Linked DNA regions of Homo sapiens: region 2 is linked to region 1. Evidence: fine-mapped expression QTL. Tissue or cell type: sun-exposed skin. Region 1 holds a variant in brackets; the other region holds the start of a gene. All regions are shown on one strand. Distances are between the middles of the regions.

The links. PIP is the estimated chance that this variant, and not a neighbour inherited with it, causes the effect.
Region 2: it holds the start of OTUD7A, and the variant in region 1 is fine-mapped to the expression of OTUD7A in sun-exposed skin (GTEx, PIP above 0.99).

The regions. Positions count from the first base shown.
Region 1 is chr15:31,430,304-31,438,624 of GRCh38, forward strand. It overlaps a transcript of KLF13 not described here. Among named protein-coding and RNA genes, the nearest start is that of KLF13, 110 kb to the left of the region's middle. RefSeq lists an enhancer at 4,545-5,064. The variant G/A (reference allele first, on the strand shown) is at 4,318.
Region 2 is chr15:31,866,910-31,874,909 of GRCh38, forward strand. It overlaps OTUD7A (OTU deubiquitinase 7A), which reads right to left and starts at 3,764. Exons shown (of 13, transcript NM_001382637.1): 1 at 3,598-3,764. RefSeq lists silencers at 937-1,231, 3,727-3,796.

The DNA of each region.
Region 1 (8,321 bases):
ACAATGAGTAAAAGGGGAAAAAATGGGTGTCTTAGTCTGTGTCATGCTGCTATCACAGTACACCAAGGATTGGGTAATTTATAAAGAACAGAAATTAATTTTCCTACAGTTCTGGAGGCTGGTAAGTCAAGATTAAAGGGCCGGCATCTGGCAAGGGTCTTCTTGCTGCATCACGACATGTTGGAAGGCATCACATGGTGGAAGGGCAAAGAGAGGGTGAGGTAGAGAGTAAAATACCCTTGAAAACAAACCCACTTCCATGATAATGGCACAAATTCATTCACTCTGCCCTCGTGGCCTAACCACCTCTCCTTAAGGCCCCACCTCTCAACACTGTTGCTTTGGGGATTAAATTTCCAACATATACTTTCTAGGGGACACATTCAAAGGTTAGCAATGGACAAAATGTTTCAACAAGTTGAAAGAGAAGATATCTAAATGGCCAATAAACATGTAAATGTTCCTTAATCATGTAAATTCAAATCACAATGAGATCATTCCATATTCTGAAAGTCTGACAGTGCCAAGTATTGGTGAGACCTTGAAGTCATAGGCACTCAGAACACTGCTGGTGGTAGAATCTCCATTCTTTGGAGGAGGATGTAACAGTATCCACTAAAGCTGAAGACAAGTACACTCATGAGCCTCCAATTCATCATAGCCCCTGCTACGGACTGAGTATATATGCACCACCCCAATTCATACGTTGAAATTCTAACCCCCAAGGTGATGGTATTTGGAGATGGGGCATGCAGCAGATGATTAGGTCATACGGGTGGACCTCTCAGGTGGAGTTAGTGACCTTAAAAAAAGAGACACAAAAGAGCTTGCTGCCTCTTTCTCTCACTCCACCATGTGTGGACACAATGAGAAGATGGCAGTCTACAACCTGGAAGCGAGCCCTCACCGAGAACCCAACTATCCTGGCACCTTGATCTCAGACTTACAGCCTCCAGAACTGTGAAAAATAAGTGCTTGTTGTTTAAGCCATCCAGTGTGTGGTATTATTATTTTTTATTATCTCAGCCCACACTGACTAAGACAGCTCTCAAATGGAAACAACAGAAATGTCCACCAACAGTAGGATGGACTAAAAAATGTATATTCATATAATGGATTTTATGCTGCAGCAAAAATGAATTGCAAATGCCTACAGCAACATGGTTAAATTTTTTTTTTTAGACAGAGTCTCCCTCTGTCGCCCAGGATGGAGTGCAGTGGCGTGCTCTCGGCTCACTGCAACCTCCGCCTCCCAGGTTCAAGCGATTCTCCTGCATCAGCTTCCTGAGTAGCTGGGACTACAGGCACCCGTCATCATGTCCGGCTAATTTTTTGTATTTTTAGTAGAGATGGGTTTTCACCGTGTTAGCCAGGATGGTCGCTATCTCCTGACCTTGTGATCCTCCCGCCTCGGCCTCCCAAAGTGCTGGGATTACAGGCGTGAGCCACCGCGCCCAGCCTGGCCAAATCTTAAAAGCATAATCTTGAGAGAAAGAAGCCAGATCTCAAACCATGCAAACACTGCACGATTCAATTTCTATACCCTGCGAAGACTTGCGGATGCGACCTTATCATTTAGGGACGCTTGCTTATGTGGTCAACTCTAAAGCAACGGAAGGAAGGAAGTGTTGACTGGGAATGCCAGGTGGCAGAGATCTGGGGAAGGGCACGGGGATGGAGGAGGTGGGATACAGATGGATGCAAGTGGTGGCTACACAGGTGTTTGCTTTACAACAACTTGCTAAGTTGAACATTTGCATTTTAAACATTTTTCTGGATGTATGTTATATTTCACAATAAGGAGGAAGACTAGAGAGAAAGGAGGAGAGAAATCAGAGCACTTACAAAACTTTCAGGTCGTTTTGCTGAAAAAGGAAGGTTGCTGGAAGGGGAAGTGAAGTTGAGAATTTTTTTTCCTGGAGCTCTTGCACTGGAAAGGGGGCTCCTTCCTGACCGCCTCTCTCTGCTCCCTGTTTTCCTATCTAGACATGGCCTCTGCCCTCCGTAGAAGGTTCCATACCAGCCAACCGGGCCACACCTTCTCCTATACCTGGTCATTTTCTTTCTCTGTCTCCTTCCCTCCCTCCCTCCCTCCCTTTTCTTGATTCCTCCCTTTTCTTGCTTTCTTTCTTGTTCTCTCTTTCTTTCCTTTTTTTTTTTTTTAAAATAAGGTCTTACTCCGTTGCCCAGGCTGGAGTGCAGTGGTGTGATCACCGCTCACTGGAGCCTCAGTCTCCTGGGCTCAAGATATCCCCCTGCCTCAGCTTCCTGAGTAGCTGGGACTATAGGCATGCACCACCACACCCAGCTAACTTTTAATTTTTTTTGTAGAGATGGGGCCTTGCTTTGTTGCCCAGGCTAGTCTTGAACTCCTGGACTCAAGCGATCCTCTTGCCTTAACTTCCCAAAGTGCTGGCATTACAGGCATGAGCCACTGCACCTGGCCTGGTCATTTCCATTTGAAGCTGGATATTGTGAATTTTACCATGCTGGATGCTGGATATTTTTGTATTATTATAAATAATCTTAGGCTGGGTGCGGTAGCTCATGCCTGTAATCCCAACACTTTGGGAGGCCGAGGCAGGCGGATAACTTGAGGCCAGGAGTTCAAGACCAGCCTGGCCAACATGGTGAAACCCCATCTCTACTAAAAATACAAAAATTAGCTGGAATGGTGGCACATGCCTGATTCCAGCGCCCACTGCACTCCAGCCTGGGCGACAGAGCGAGACTCTGCCTCAAAACAAAGCAGAAAAATAAACACATAAATAATCTTGAGCTTTTTTTCTGAGATACAATGAAGCTACTGAGAAACTGTTTGATCTTGTTGGGTCTTGCTTTTATGATTTGTTAGGTGGGCGTGGAGCAGTGCTTAGTCCAGGGCTGAGTTTAGGCTACCCACTGAGTACTGTGCCCAATGGCCAGTGAATCAGGAGTTATGCGTTCTGGCTGGTGGGAGCCCCCTGGGAGCTCCAGCTGCTGTTCTTTACTTCCATGCGGTGGCTTTTCCCTGGCCCCAGGCAGTTTCTCCACACACATGAGGTGAATAACCGAGGAGTCCCTTTGCAGATGTCCAGGGCTGTGTTTTGCCAGCTCTCTCTGTTTAGGTCCTCTGTCCTAAAAACCCTAGCCACCTTGGTCTCCCTGGGCTGTCAGCTGTGTTCCCTTCTCTCAGGGAGTCCACTCTCTTCCACCAGGGTCCCCCCCTTCCCCAGTCCCTGTGTGCTCTGCACCCTGTACATGCGATCAGGGCAGTGAGCCAGGACTGTTGAAGAACTCACCTGTTTCCCACCTCCCGTTCTACTGAAGGCTATGGGCTAGGATGCCCGTCCAGCCTGTGGGCTCAGACTATGGCACCTTTGTGGGCCCCAGGGAATGTCATCTCAAAGATACCTCTGCCCTGAGAGCCCAGCCCTGTGAGGTCTCCCTGAGCCCTTGGTCTGGAAGCAGTGGTGCCCCTGTGTGGGCTGACACTGACTGGCCACTCAGGCTCCATGCAAGGGACATCAGTCCCACGCCAGTCCCTGGCAGCCGAGGCCACAGCTGCCCCACAGCCGCTCTTGCCCCTCCTGCAAAAGGTGTGGTTTGCCTAGCTCAGGGTCTTATCTGCCCTCGCCATGTGAAGAATCTTCTGGCCCCAGACCACCAGGAGACACCACCCCTCACATTTCTTTTTTGAGCACCTGCCAGATGTAGGAAATCTTTTTAGAACTAAGAGAAGATGGAGAGAGAACAGCCAAGTCCTACCCCAGAGAGATTCCCACCTAGTGGAGGGTAAGAGGCCTGCCATCATTGCCACTGGTGGTACAATGCTGGTGCCAAGACTGTGTGCCAGGCTCGTTGCTTCGCGTCCGTTACTTCATCTCAGCAGACAACTCTCAATATCCCCATTCTACGGATGGGGAAATGAGGCTCAGAGAGGTAAGTGACTTGCTCAGGTTCACACAGCTGCACACAGCTGGACATACAGCTGCCCACACAGTAAAATGCAGGATCAGTGGCAGCAGGAGAGAGACTTGCCAGTTGGAGAGCCAGGAAGGTGCACAGAGGAGGTGGCATTGAGCTGGCTCTGGGGATGGGCAGGCCTTTTATAGAGGACTGGGAAGAAGGGCCGGGAACCAACAGTACCCCCCAAGGGAGGTTCGAATCAGGTGCTTGCCCCCAGTTGAGCCAGAGTTGGGGTGTGGAAAGGCTTGGAAAGCAGGAGAGGCTGTGGATGGAGGTGGGAGAGGCTTGGAACTGGGTCTTTGCTATCTCAGGGGCGTGGAAGGGACTTTTGAGTTTGAGAATGACGTGTCTGGAGCTCCCTGGTTCCAC[G/A]GGGCTGGACCTGCTAGGGCCTGAAGCGGGTTAAGAGCAGAAATCAAAAACAGGTTTGTTTGTGAGTCAGTAGCTGGGAAAATACTGGGAAGCAGGCTTCTTGGAGCTCCCCTTCATCCTCAGCCCTGTGGATTGGGCAGCAGCCCACGCCTCCCTGCCCCAGCCACAGCCCCCCGTCAATGCCGGCGCGCAGCAGCTTTTGCTCATCCTGCCCTGGTTCCAACCCCAAGGCCATGGGGCAGCCCACTGGGCGCCTTCCTGCATGGGTGTCCCCCTTTGCTGCTGTGTCTAGACTGCAGACACAAGTGCTGGCGGGGGCCGGGGGACTGGCCAAAACTAGGGCTGAAATCATGTTCAAAACCACAGTCAAGGCGGACTTGTCAGAAATATTCCTTTCCTTGAGCCGTCGCAGCTCAGCCTCCTTGAATCACCCTGGCCACTTCCTTCCTGTGTATATCTTATGCACGCTAAGGGACGGGGCGGGTGCAACGTGTGTGTTTTTACTTCTTTTAAGTTTTGTCTATGTTTTGTCCTTTCAATGTGTTGTAGGCTGTGGGGGCGGGGCTGTTCCGAGGGGCCTTTGTCACAGTAAGGGACACTGGGGACAGCTCGGGCTTTCTCTTCAAGCTGAAAACCTTTGGTTGTGAGAATGACTAGGAGAAGGGTCTCGCTAGGGTCATGCTTAGGACCCTTCGCAGGTGGTGTGTTTAATCTCAAAACGGCCTCAAGAGGCTCTCGATCTTTTACAGGTGACAAAGAAGACAAGGAAGACAAGGAAGGTGATCCGGGAGGCTGGAGAGCTTGTCAAGGTCACAGACCCACGGTTTTCCGCCCCCTAGGGTCCAAGCTCTTTCCTGGACATCTGCAGGCAATGTCGACACGCCCTCCAGTGTCTGTGGCGGGCAAAGGATGTGTCTCCACCCCCAGACCTTCCGATCCTGTGCTGAAAGTGTCCCTCAGCCTGTTTCCTGAGAAGCCCAGGGGCTTTTGGCTTGTTACTTTTTCTTTCTCTTGAAGTAAACAGAATAAAAGAGAGTTGCTCAGACGTCTTTGGCTGTGACCCACAGGAGATGATGCAATCTCCACGGCACCCCCACATGCATGTGTATGCACAGGCGTGTACAGATATCTAAAACTGGCACCAATTTCACAAAAACACTCACCCTTATGCGAGACACATTCACCCTACACTCATCCCCCATCTCTACAGAAAATTAAAGTATACATTCATAGTTGCTGTATTCATGCATGTACAGATGTATGTACATTTATTCATGTATGTGTATAACTTATGCCATTTTCATGAAACACTCACCCTACGTGTGATACACTCCTATTTTCTAGGAATCGCCGCCCACTGAGCTTATGTCCAAACCTTAGTGGATCATAGTCTAAGTTTGGCAAACACTGAGCCGGGAGGAGTCATGTCTGCAGGGCCCCAGGAGTCCCTTAATTTGGGTCCTGATCACTCTGCTCCACCCAGTGGAGCAGGCACATGCACTTGGCCCATAAGGAAGGAAAGGAGGGCGGGGGAAAAAGGGAGGGAGGGAGGGAGGGAGGGAAGGAGGGAGCACCTCCACCATCGTAGGCAGGACCTGTGAGAGCTGAACAGGGCCAGGCAGCTAGGCACCACTCTGGGACTCTGGGGTTTCTTAGGGGATGACTTGTTTCTGGGGTCCCAGTAGGAGGAACTCAGGGTGACGCCTCCGAGGATGTGAGTGCATGTGGCAGCCGGGCCCCTCAGCCCCTCTGTGTCCTGGTATCCTCTAAATGCAGATGATGGTGAGAATCCATGCCCAGCCCGTGGCTCGGCCCATCTCTGGGAGAGCGTGTTTACCACAGCACTTGGTGTGGTAGGAGGTGAGCAGGGTGGAAGTGCTTTGCATTCACGTGGGACTTCTGGCTCTCAGTTCATCCCACCCCCAGGGCCCGGCATGAGTGAGGCAAGGGTGGGTGGGAGGGTGCAGGATGTGGGAATGCCATGTGCTGTGCACTGCTCACTTCACCCCTCGCTCGCCCCAGTTGGGGTCCCAGACCAGGAAGCTCCATTCACAGAGGTGTGGCCTGGGGCTACTGCACTGCCCAGCAGGTTGTGGGGTCCCTTTACTCTATGCTGTGTGACAATGTTACCTTCCTGGAAAGAACCCGACCAGCCCCCTTTTGCTAGTCATTACCACAGATAGGAGAGAGAACTAAATATCTAGCCAGCCATCCTCTCGGAGCTCCGGAGCTCAGGTCACCAGGCTTCAGGGACTCGCTGCCATCCTCACAGGCTTAGATCCCTGCTGCAGGGTCAGCTAGGTAACCCCTGAGGGTGGGGTGTTCAAAGTTCAGGCTGCCCCCCAGACGTGTGGAATGCCAGCCCTGACTGCCAGGGCGATCTGAGGTGGACTGACCATCCCCTGGACACTTTCATGAAGTGTGGGCACGGGCGCGACAAGTGGCCATTTATCATCCTTCCCTGCAAAGACTGGGCCAGGTTAGAGATGGACCCCAGCAGTTTCATACCCACCAAGGGCACTGGGAGCTTCCACATAGTCACTGCCAGTAGTGGCTGCTGGCTGGGGAGAGGATCTTGGAATGCTGGTCACTGGAGGCCCTCACAGGTGACTGGGAATGTGGAGGAGCAGCAGGGTGCCTCTTCTCTGCCATGCCTTATGTTGGGGTTTGCTCTGGTTCCCCTCGCAGCCACTTACAGCTCCCCCATTGATGATGGGGCACTGCCAGCCCAAGGCCTGCCTCAAAGTCTAAATATCTGTGGGGTGGGGTGCAGGGAGGCGTGCACCCCAGAAAGCAATCCTGGGATCTCCCTTTCTACCTTAACCTTTCTTCCCACTCGGGGGCTTCCTCCCATGAGTGTTGTCAGGTCTTAGCAAATAAAAATACAGGATACCCAGTTATATTTGAATTTCAAATAAAAATTTGAGTAAGAGTTTAGTATAAGCACATCCCAAATGTTGCATGGATGTTCTGCATTTTATCTGGCAGCTGTACCTGCTAGACCTTGGGCTCTGTGGTCGGGTCTTTGGACATGACATCTGCACGGGCTGGGGGCTGAGGCTGCTGGCCAGGGCGAGCCAGGGCAGGCCACCAGGCTGCAGAACCCACATGCAGAGAATGGATGTGAGGAGAAGGGGCCAGAGGAAACAGGCCCTGCAGGTGCAGGAGAGAGAAGCTGCACACGCTCCCAAGGACCCGAGAGCACTCATGTGGGTGGGCCGTGGTCTCCTGTGGCCTGCTAGGAAATCCCCCTCTGCCTGAGCTCACTTGAGAAGGTCTCTGTTTCCCAAACCCTGTCCCCCATTGCACCCAACCCTGCAGTGAGTCACGAGGAGCTCTCCCATGAGGGGCAGAGGAGGCTCACTCAGTGACCCCTGTGCCACCCCACGTCAGAGGAGATGGGGCTCTCTAGTGGTCCTAGGAGCACCTCATTTCTGTCACATCCCCACCCCTGGGCCCACAGGACATGAGCTTGAAGGGAAATGGGAAGACTGGGCATGAGAGGGAAGGGCCAGGATAGACACACCCCCAGCAGAAGGGCCTGTGTCTTCCTGCTCCCACACAGAGGCCGGGTAACTTGCTTTTTTTACTAACAGGTTGGCCTTAGGGGAAAAGGGGACCTCACCAAAGGAGTGCTACTAGTGGGTCAGCCTAGCTTAGGAGAATTCTGTGTTGGGCTTTGCACCAAAGACCAATTAGTAATTGGAATTTTTCATTTATAACTGAGGATATGGCTCAAGCTAGCTTAAACAGAGAGAGGACACGTATCGGCTGTGTAATGGGTCATAGCTTCAGGCACAGTTGGTTCTAGAAGCTCAAGTTGGATCTGTATTCTCTCTCTCTTTCTCTCTCTCCACAATTCTATTCTGTTTCCCCCCTTTTTAGGCTTCTTCCTCAGACCAGCTCTCCCAGCAGCAAGCTGATCATCAATAACTCCAAGGTCAGAGAAGCTAGAGCTTCCAGAGCGGAGAGCTCAAGAAAGTCCCCATGGTCTTTCTGACTCC
Region 2 (8,000 bases), 440 kb after region 1:
TGCCCAGTCATAGCACTGGGCTAGTTCTCTAGTAGGGCATCTGTGAAACTTCTTTCCTTTTAAAGTGTGATGTTCCCTTTCGCATGGGGCCTCCATGAGGAACCTCAGTAGGAGAGAGGAGTCTTTGGTCTTCAGTAACACACCCAGATGCTGCAATGACCATCTAAGCATGGGAAACACCCATCCCAACTCACCAAAATAGCCCTGGAGCACAAGCTGGCCTCTCTGAGTTCAGTCCCTGCGAGGAAAAGTCTCCCAGGGAACATGTGGTTGAATAACCTGGCACACACTTAAAATCAGATAAAGCACATTTTAAGTGAAAAAGCACAGTTGCTTTTTCTTGTTTTCATTTTATAGGGAAAAATAAAAGCACAGTAACGAAACGTTTTTCATCAGAGAAATTTTGAGGCCAAGAGCCCTTCCCATCTCATTTAGGCACGTCATGGAAATAAATGTGGCACCATCAGAAGGTCAGAGGCCATGACTTGCACACAGCTTGCTCAGAGCAAAGTGCCCCTTCCCTCCTCCACCAGGCTTGGGGGCCACAGGAATTACTTCCTAAGTGGACATCCGCCACCTATAATTCAGTGCAAGGGGTCAAATAGGCCCCTCTGGGAAGTACTACCACACAGGGTCCCAGGGCCTAAGTCAATCGGGAGTCAAAGCCAGGAGCAAACATCAAGGGTGTGCAGGAGAGGATTTCCACGGGGTTGCCCTGGCTGGCACATTCACGCCATGACCAGGACACCAGCCTGTAGTTCACTGAAGTCAACTTTCTCCTCTCCAAACTAACACTCACTTCCGCAGTCTGAGAAGGCACTCAATCCTGAGACTCAAAGTGTGCTAAGAGCCACCTTCCAAAGACATGGAGCCACTGAAGCAATCTCTGCTAGGGAGGCCTACATTCCAGACTCCACAACCTCTGGTCATTCAAGTATGTGCCCCCAACCCTTCCTTAAGTTTCCATCTCTTGGAAGACAGGCATGCGGGAGCGGAGGGGGAGGGGCGGGGGGCGGGGGCGGAGCACACCGGCGCACACACATGCACCCACCTCAACTTGGAGATCCACTCCCAAGGTGGCTCTGACACAGGCCCGCCAAGCCGCGTTTAGCACGCCCCCTGCTGGCCCACAAGAGCTAATTCAACCTTTCTTCCGTGGGCCTAAGGCATGAATAAATGACCTTAATATCCCAAAGGGAACAGAAAGAAAATCAGGGCAATTTTTACTTCTTAGAAACGGAAGATGTGACAGTGATCTCTTTTGGGAAATCACTGACAACTCCCAAATTTAAGCACTCTAAACATACAAGCGGGATGAAGAGGCTTTAAAGCGGTTGTTTTAAAATGTTTTGGGGAAATAAGTGACCCATACCTAAAGATTTAGTGGAAACACTTCCGTTTGAAGTTTTACTAGTACTACAGCGAGTTAAACCATAAACGTGGTGAATATTTTCACGAGTCTACAGGTGAAAACAAAAAGATGGATACGGGGCCAGATTGATTTCACAGACTCCATTTTCAAAGAGTTTGCAATGCAGACCCTGAAAAACCAATCTTCATACTATTGAGGACATGTTGTAAAGAAGAATCTCTGCCACAACTCAAGAGTTAAGTTCTACAGCAACTACACACAGCGGGAGCAGTGTCATCCAAAAGCAGCTCACTTGGAGCCAGTTTCTCATCTCACTTAGGCACACCATTGGGAATAAATGCGGCACCATCAGGAGGTCAGAGGCCAAGAATTACACACACTTGCTCAGAGAAAGGTGTCCCCTCTCCTTCTCCACCAAGCTTGGGGGCCTCAGGAGTTACTTTCTAAGGGAAAACCTGCCATCTATGATCCAGGCCCAAGTGAGACCCGCACGTGGCAATACTTCGTAAAGCGGCGATTTCCACCCATTATCAGCCTGAACACTAAAGGCCTAAGTAACCACTGTTTTCCCATTCTTTTCACACCAATACAGGGTTCAAGAGATTGAAGTTCCTAACCAGGTCCCAACTTTTGAGTGGCATATGGTATTAAATTCCTTACAGATCCAATAAAATCACACTAACAATTTAAGGCATGCTTATTTTAACCAATTAGGAGGTGTCATTAATTATTAAATACAAAAATGTCAATACTTTTGTCCCTTATTGGATATCCTTTCGATATGATAGGCTTGAGTAGATACTCAGATTGCCTTGGGAACTTGCTTAGTTTTGTTCCCATAAGAATTGGTACTAATGGCACACTCACAATAAAATAATGGAGTGTTGATCCCATTTAGTGGGGAATGTTTATCCAGAACTGAGTGTGCCGTGCAGATCTACCTCTGTTCTCGTGAACCCTCTTTGGGTCTTGAAGAGGCCTTTGAAGCTGGTGGGACACACGGCTGCTGGGAGGACCCTAGTGAACCTGCCTCCCCGCCTTCGCCCAGGGCAGGCTTCTCCGGGCACACCCTGGAGGAGGAGGAGGAGGATGGTGAAGGACACCTGCAGATTTTCCTGAAGCAATTAAGACCTGTAAAGATTTAGGCCCCGCTGTCAACCTTTTCCTGGACACATTATCTGCCTCATCATATTTTTAAAAATTGTTCCTCTTACAGCCCACTTCCATTTACAAAGGTATCACCTGGCGGTAACCATGTGCATGTCATACATGACTTTCCCCTGGATCCTTGTGCTGTGGATGAAGCGTTTCCCTGATCGGGGTCTCACAAGTTTCCCTTCAGCTACTCTTAAATCTATACATTCTCAAGCCAATAGACAGAAATAAAAGTCATTTGCACTTGTGTGAGGTAGCTGAGTTTACAGAGCAGAGGCAAATCCATTTTATTACAGAGATTCTCAAAGGGCTGCAATAGCTTCACCGGGAGGGAGGAGGGTACACTTGAGCGGTTGTGTCCAATGAAGGAAAGTTTTAGTTAATGATGACATCACTGACATCTCCCAAATTTAAAGGAGCACTTAAAGCACCGCAGATGCAATTTTTTCCCCTCCAGTGAGGAGATACTAGGGAAGGCCTCTGGGTTCACAGCCAAATTGCCTTAATGGTTTGCCTGCTGTCCAGCGAGACCCAGCAGAGCGAGCGGGACGGCGGTGCGCCGGGCCGCGGGGACCCACGCAGTCACAGCTCCGGTGCCCGGCGAGCGGCCTCGCGCGCGGCTCGGGGCCGGGCCCTGCCCGGCCGTCTGCAAGAGCCGCGGGACCCCCGACGCGCGCGCACGGACCGAGGGGTCGGTCGCCCCACGCCTGGCATCACGTTCCAGTGCGGACAGCCAAAGGGCTGAGCGGAGGCAGCAGCCCCGACCCAGCGGTAGCGCCGCGCCCTGCCCGAGAGAGGCGCGCCACGCCGGGCCGGAGCCGGTGGCCCGGGAGCCCGCGGGGTCCGGAGCGGAGCCCGCAATGCAGACGCGCCGGCGAGCCCAGCCGGGGCCCGCGCCCCCCGCGTCCCCGCGCCCCGGCCCCGCGGTCGCCCGGCCTCAACGCCCACCTGCCTCGCCACGGAGCTCGGGAAGGAGACGGCGCCGGCCCCGCGCCCGGAGAGCGCACCTGCCTGGTCCGCGGGCCCGGCCCCGCCGCCCGCCGGCAGCACCGCGGCCAGCGCCGTCTTACCTGCCGCGCCGCGCCGCTCCGCTCCGCCAGCCCGCAGCGCCGCAGTCGCCGCTACCCGACTTCCATTTTCTCTCGCTTTAAAGGAAAACCAGATCAGCTGTTTTGCTCCCGCTCGGGCTCCGCGGCCCCCTCCCCAGCTGCCGCTCGCGGTCCCGGTGGCCTCTCCTCCCCCGCCTCCTCCCGCGCTCCGCTCCGCCCCTCGCGCCCCTCCGCTCCGCCCGCGGCCGCGCACAACGCCCGCCTCCCGGCTCCGCCTGCTGCCTCCGGGCGCGCGCCCTCCTCTGACGTCACCGGTCGCGTTCGCGCCCCGCCCCCGCCCCGCGCGGACGTGCGCGCGCCGCGCCTGTGCCCCGCCCCCGCCCCTCCGGGGCCGGGCACGGAGAGCGCGTGCTCGCGGCCGCGAGCCGAGGAGGGGACGTACAGCGCCCGCGCGCCCGCGAGCCCGCTCCGGCTCTCCCATGCTTGCCCCTCGGGGTGCTCCTTCTGCGCTCTCCGCCTGGACTGCAGGAAAAGGCTGCTTAAACAGCCTGCCTTTTCCTGCTGCCTGACTCGCGCCATCTGCGGCCACCTGTCTCGTTTCTTCCCCCTGGCTGGCGCACCCTTCCTTCCTAAACATCCCAAACTTTCTCCCACCCAGGCTGTCCAGGCTGCAGTTTCTACGCCCTGCGCTGGGGCCTGTGCATCACGCCTAATCCAAAGCTGGTCCTTTTACCTCCCAAAAAGGTTCTCTGACCTTTTCCCATTTTTTGCCTTCCTCTAAAGACTTTTTCACGCCACCCCTTCAGATGGTTCCCCTCCCTGATGGCAAGACCTGCTCGCTGCTCTGGGCCCTTCTCACGTCACCCTGTAGATGTAGTCACGCTTCCTTATCCCAAACAGGACGTTATATTGCAGATGACCCATACCATCCTGGTGTACTTCTAAACAATCATTATTTTACTTTTAGTTTAGGACTTTTTGCTTGACTTTAAACATTGTATATGTTTAATAGTGTTTAATAATTTATTTGACTTTTAAAATTGATATTCAGTAAAATTGGTTATTTGATATATAATCCTGTGATCTTGAACCCTTGTTTGGATTCATGTAACCACTAGCGCAATAAAGAGCTCCCTAGTTCTGCCCTTTTATAACAGCGCCCCCGCCAACCCTAACTTTTGGTAACCACTGATAGGTTCTCCATTGCTACGGTTTTGTCTTTGTGAGTGTGTCGTATACATGGAATTACGCAATATGTAACATTTTGAAACTGACTTTATTCCCTCATCATTATACCTTGGAGATTCATCCATGTTATTGTGTATAGTAATAGTCCTTTTTATTGTTGAGGGGAGTCTCATTATTTGTACCACATTTTGTTTAGTCACCCACTGGAGAATATTTGCGTGGTTTCCAGTTTTTGGCGACTGTGAATAAACATTCTATAAACATTTGCATGCAGCGTTTTGTACGGACAAATTTTTTAAATTAGTTGACTAAATATCTAGGAGTGCAATTGCTAGATCTTATGGTAAATTTGTTTAACTTTATAAGAACCAAACAGTTTTCTAGAGTGGCTATAGCATTTTTATAACTGTCAGCAAATATGAATCCCTTTCCTTCATCCTCACCAGCACTTGATATTGGCTATCTTTATCTATCTATCTGTCCATCCATCCATCCATCCGTCTATCATCTATAATTTTAGACATTCTAGTAGGCATATAGTGCTATATCGTTGTTAATTTTCAATTTTCTACTGAAAAATTATGTGGAGCAACTTTTCATATGCACCTGTATATCTTCTTTGGTGAGATGTTTGTTCACATCTTTTGCCCATTAAAAAAAAAAGGTTGTTTTCTTATGGTTGAGTTTTAAGAGTTCTTTGTGTATTTTGGATAGAAGTACTTTATCTGATACGTGTTTTGCAGGTATTTTCTTCCAGTGGAAGCTTGTCTTTTCATTCTCTTAACAGTCCTGTCCTGAATTTAGGGGAAGTATCCAGTTTCTTACCACTAAATATGATGTTAGCAGTAGGATTTTTTTAGTTCTTCTTTATCAAGATTAGGAAGTTCTCTCTATTCCTAGTTTGCAGAGTTTTTATCATGAATGAATGTTGGATTTTGCCAAATTCGTTTTCTGCATCTATTGATACGGTCATGTGATTTTATTTTCTTTAGCTTGTTGATATGATGGGTTACATTGATTTTCAATTGATTTTCAAGGAACCGGTCTTGCATACTTGGGTCAAATTCTACTTGGGCATGGTATATAATTGTTTTTATACACCATTGTATTCAATATGCTAATATTTTGTTGAAGACTTTTGCATCTATGTTCATGAGAAATATTTGGCTATAGTTTTCTTTTTTGTAATGTCTTTAATTTATTTTGGTATGCCGGTAATGCTGGCCTCATAAAATGAGTTAAGAAGTAATATTTACTTGTATTTTCTGTAAGAAATTGTAAAGAACCTATATCAATTCTTCCATAAATGTTTGGTAAAATTCCCTGGTGAAACCATCTGAATCTGGTGATTTTTTTGAGACTTCATTAATTATTGATTCTTTGTGGATACAGAGCTATTAGGTGATCTGTTTGCTTTTCTGTAAAATGTAGTTGTATCATTCAAGGAATCGGTCCTTTTTATCTAATATTCAAACTTGTGGGTGTAAAGTTGTTCATCATAAACCTTTATTATTCTTTTAACATCTATGAAATTAGTAGAGATGACGCCTCTTTCATTTTTTGATATTGGCAAACTATGCCCAATGTCTTTTTTTCTTGGTTAACCTGGACAGGTTTATTAATTTTAATCATCTTTTCAGCTTTTTCTTTGTTTTGTTGATTTTTTTCTATTGTTTTCTATTTTCAATTTCATTCTCTAATTTTTATTATTCCTCTTTGTTCTGCTTGTTTTAGGCTTAAATTGCTCTTCTTTCTCTATTATCCAAGGTGACAATTTAGGTTGTTGATTTTAGATTTTTCTTCTTTTCAAATGTATACATTTACTGCTATAAATATCCCCGCTTTTACTGCATCCCACAAATTTAGAAAAGTTGTACTTTAATTTTTATTTAGATCAATGTTTTTAGTTATTCTTGAGATTCCTCTTTGACCCAAATGTTTTTTAAAAATGTGTTGTTTAGTTTCCAATAATTTGGGACTTTCCAGCTATCATTCTGTTCTTGATTTCTAGGTTACTTCCATTGTGGTATGAAGACATACTTTGTTTAATTTCTATTTTTCTTTAATTTGATAAGGTGTGTTTTATAGATCAGAATGTGGCCAATGTTGGTGATTATTCCATGCCAGCTTGAGAAGAATGTGTATTGTGCTATTGCTAGATCTACAAATATCAATTAAATAAAGTTGATAATGCTGTTTAGGTCAATTATATCCTCACCGATTTTTTGCCTATCTGATCTTATCAATCATGGATAGAGAAATGTTGAAGTATCCTATGATAGTGGATTGGACCATTTTTTCTTTCAGGTTTATCATTTTTTCCTCACTTATTTTGACATTTTATTCTTAGGCACATGCATATTTAGGGTTATTATGTATTCTTGGAGAATTAGCCCCTTTATGATTATGAGTTTCTTACCTATCCCTCCCCTCACATCCCTGATAATTTTCCTTTTTCTCAAGTCCCTTTTATCTGAAATTAATGCAGCTACTCCAGTTTTCTTTTGATCAGGGTTAACATGGTATATCTTTCTTCATCCCTTTACTTTTAACCAAACAGATACTTTATATTTAATGTCAACAAGATATAGTGGGGTCTTGTTTTGTTATCTACTCTAGCAATCTGTGTCTTTTAATTGGTGTATTTAGACCATTCACATTTAACACAATTGTTGATCTATTTGGATGAATATCAATCATATTTGTAACTGTTTCCTACTGGTTGCCAGTGGCGGCTTTTTCTGCCTTCTCCGATTTTAATTGAGCATTTTGTGTGGTTCTATTTTATCTTCTCTTAAAGAGTATCAATTATACTTTTTAAAGAATTTTTTAGTGGCCATTCTAGAGTTTCTTTTTTCTTTGCTTTGCTTTTTTTTTAAGACAAAGTCTGGCTCTATTGCCTAGGCTGGAGTGCGGTGGTGCCATCTCGGCTCACTGCATCCTCTGCCTCCTGGGTTCAAGCCATCCTCCCAGCTTAGCCCCCTGAGTAGCTTACCATGCCCAGCTAATCTTTGCAATTTTTGTAGAGACAGGATTTCACCATGTTGTCCAGGCTGGTCTCAAGCTCGTTAGCTCAAGCAATCTGCCTGCCTTGGCCTCCCAAAGTGCTGGGATTACAGGTCTGAGCCATCATGTCCAGCCTAGAGTTTCTAATATAGATTTTCTTCTTTTACTAATGTGTGTTCACCTTCAAATCATGGTATTGTTTCACATGTAACGTAGATATCTTATAAGAG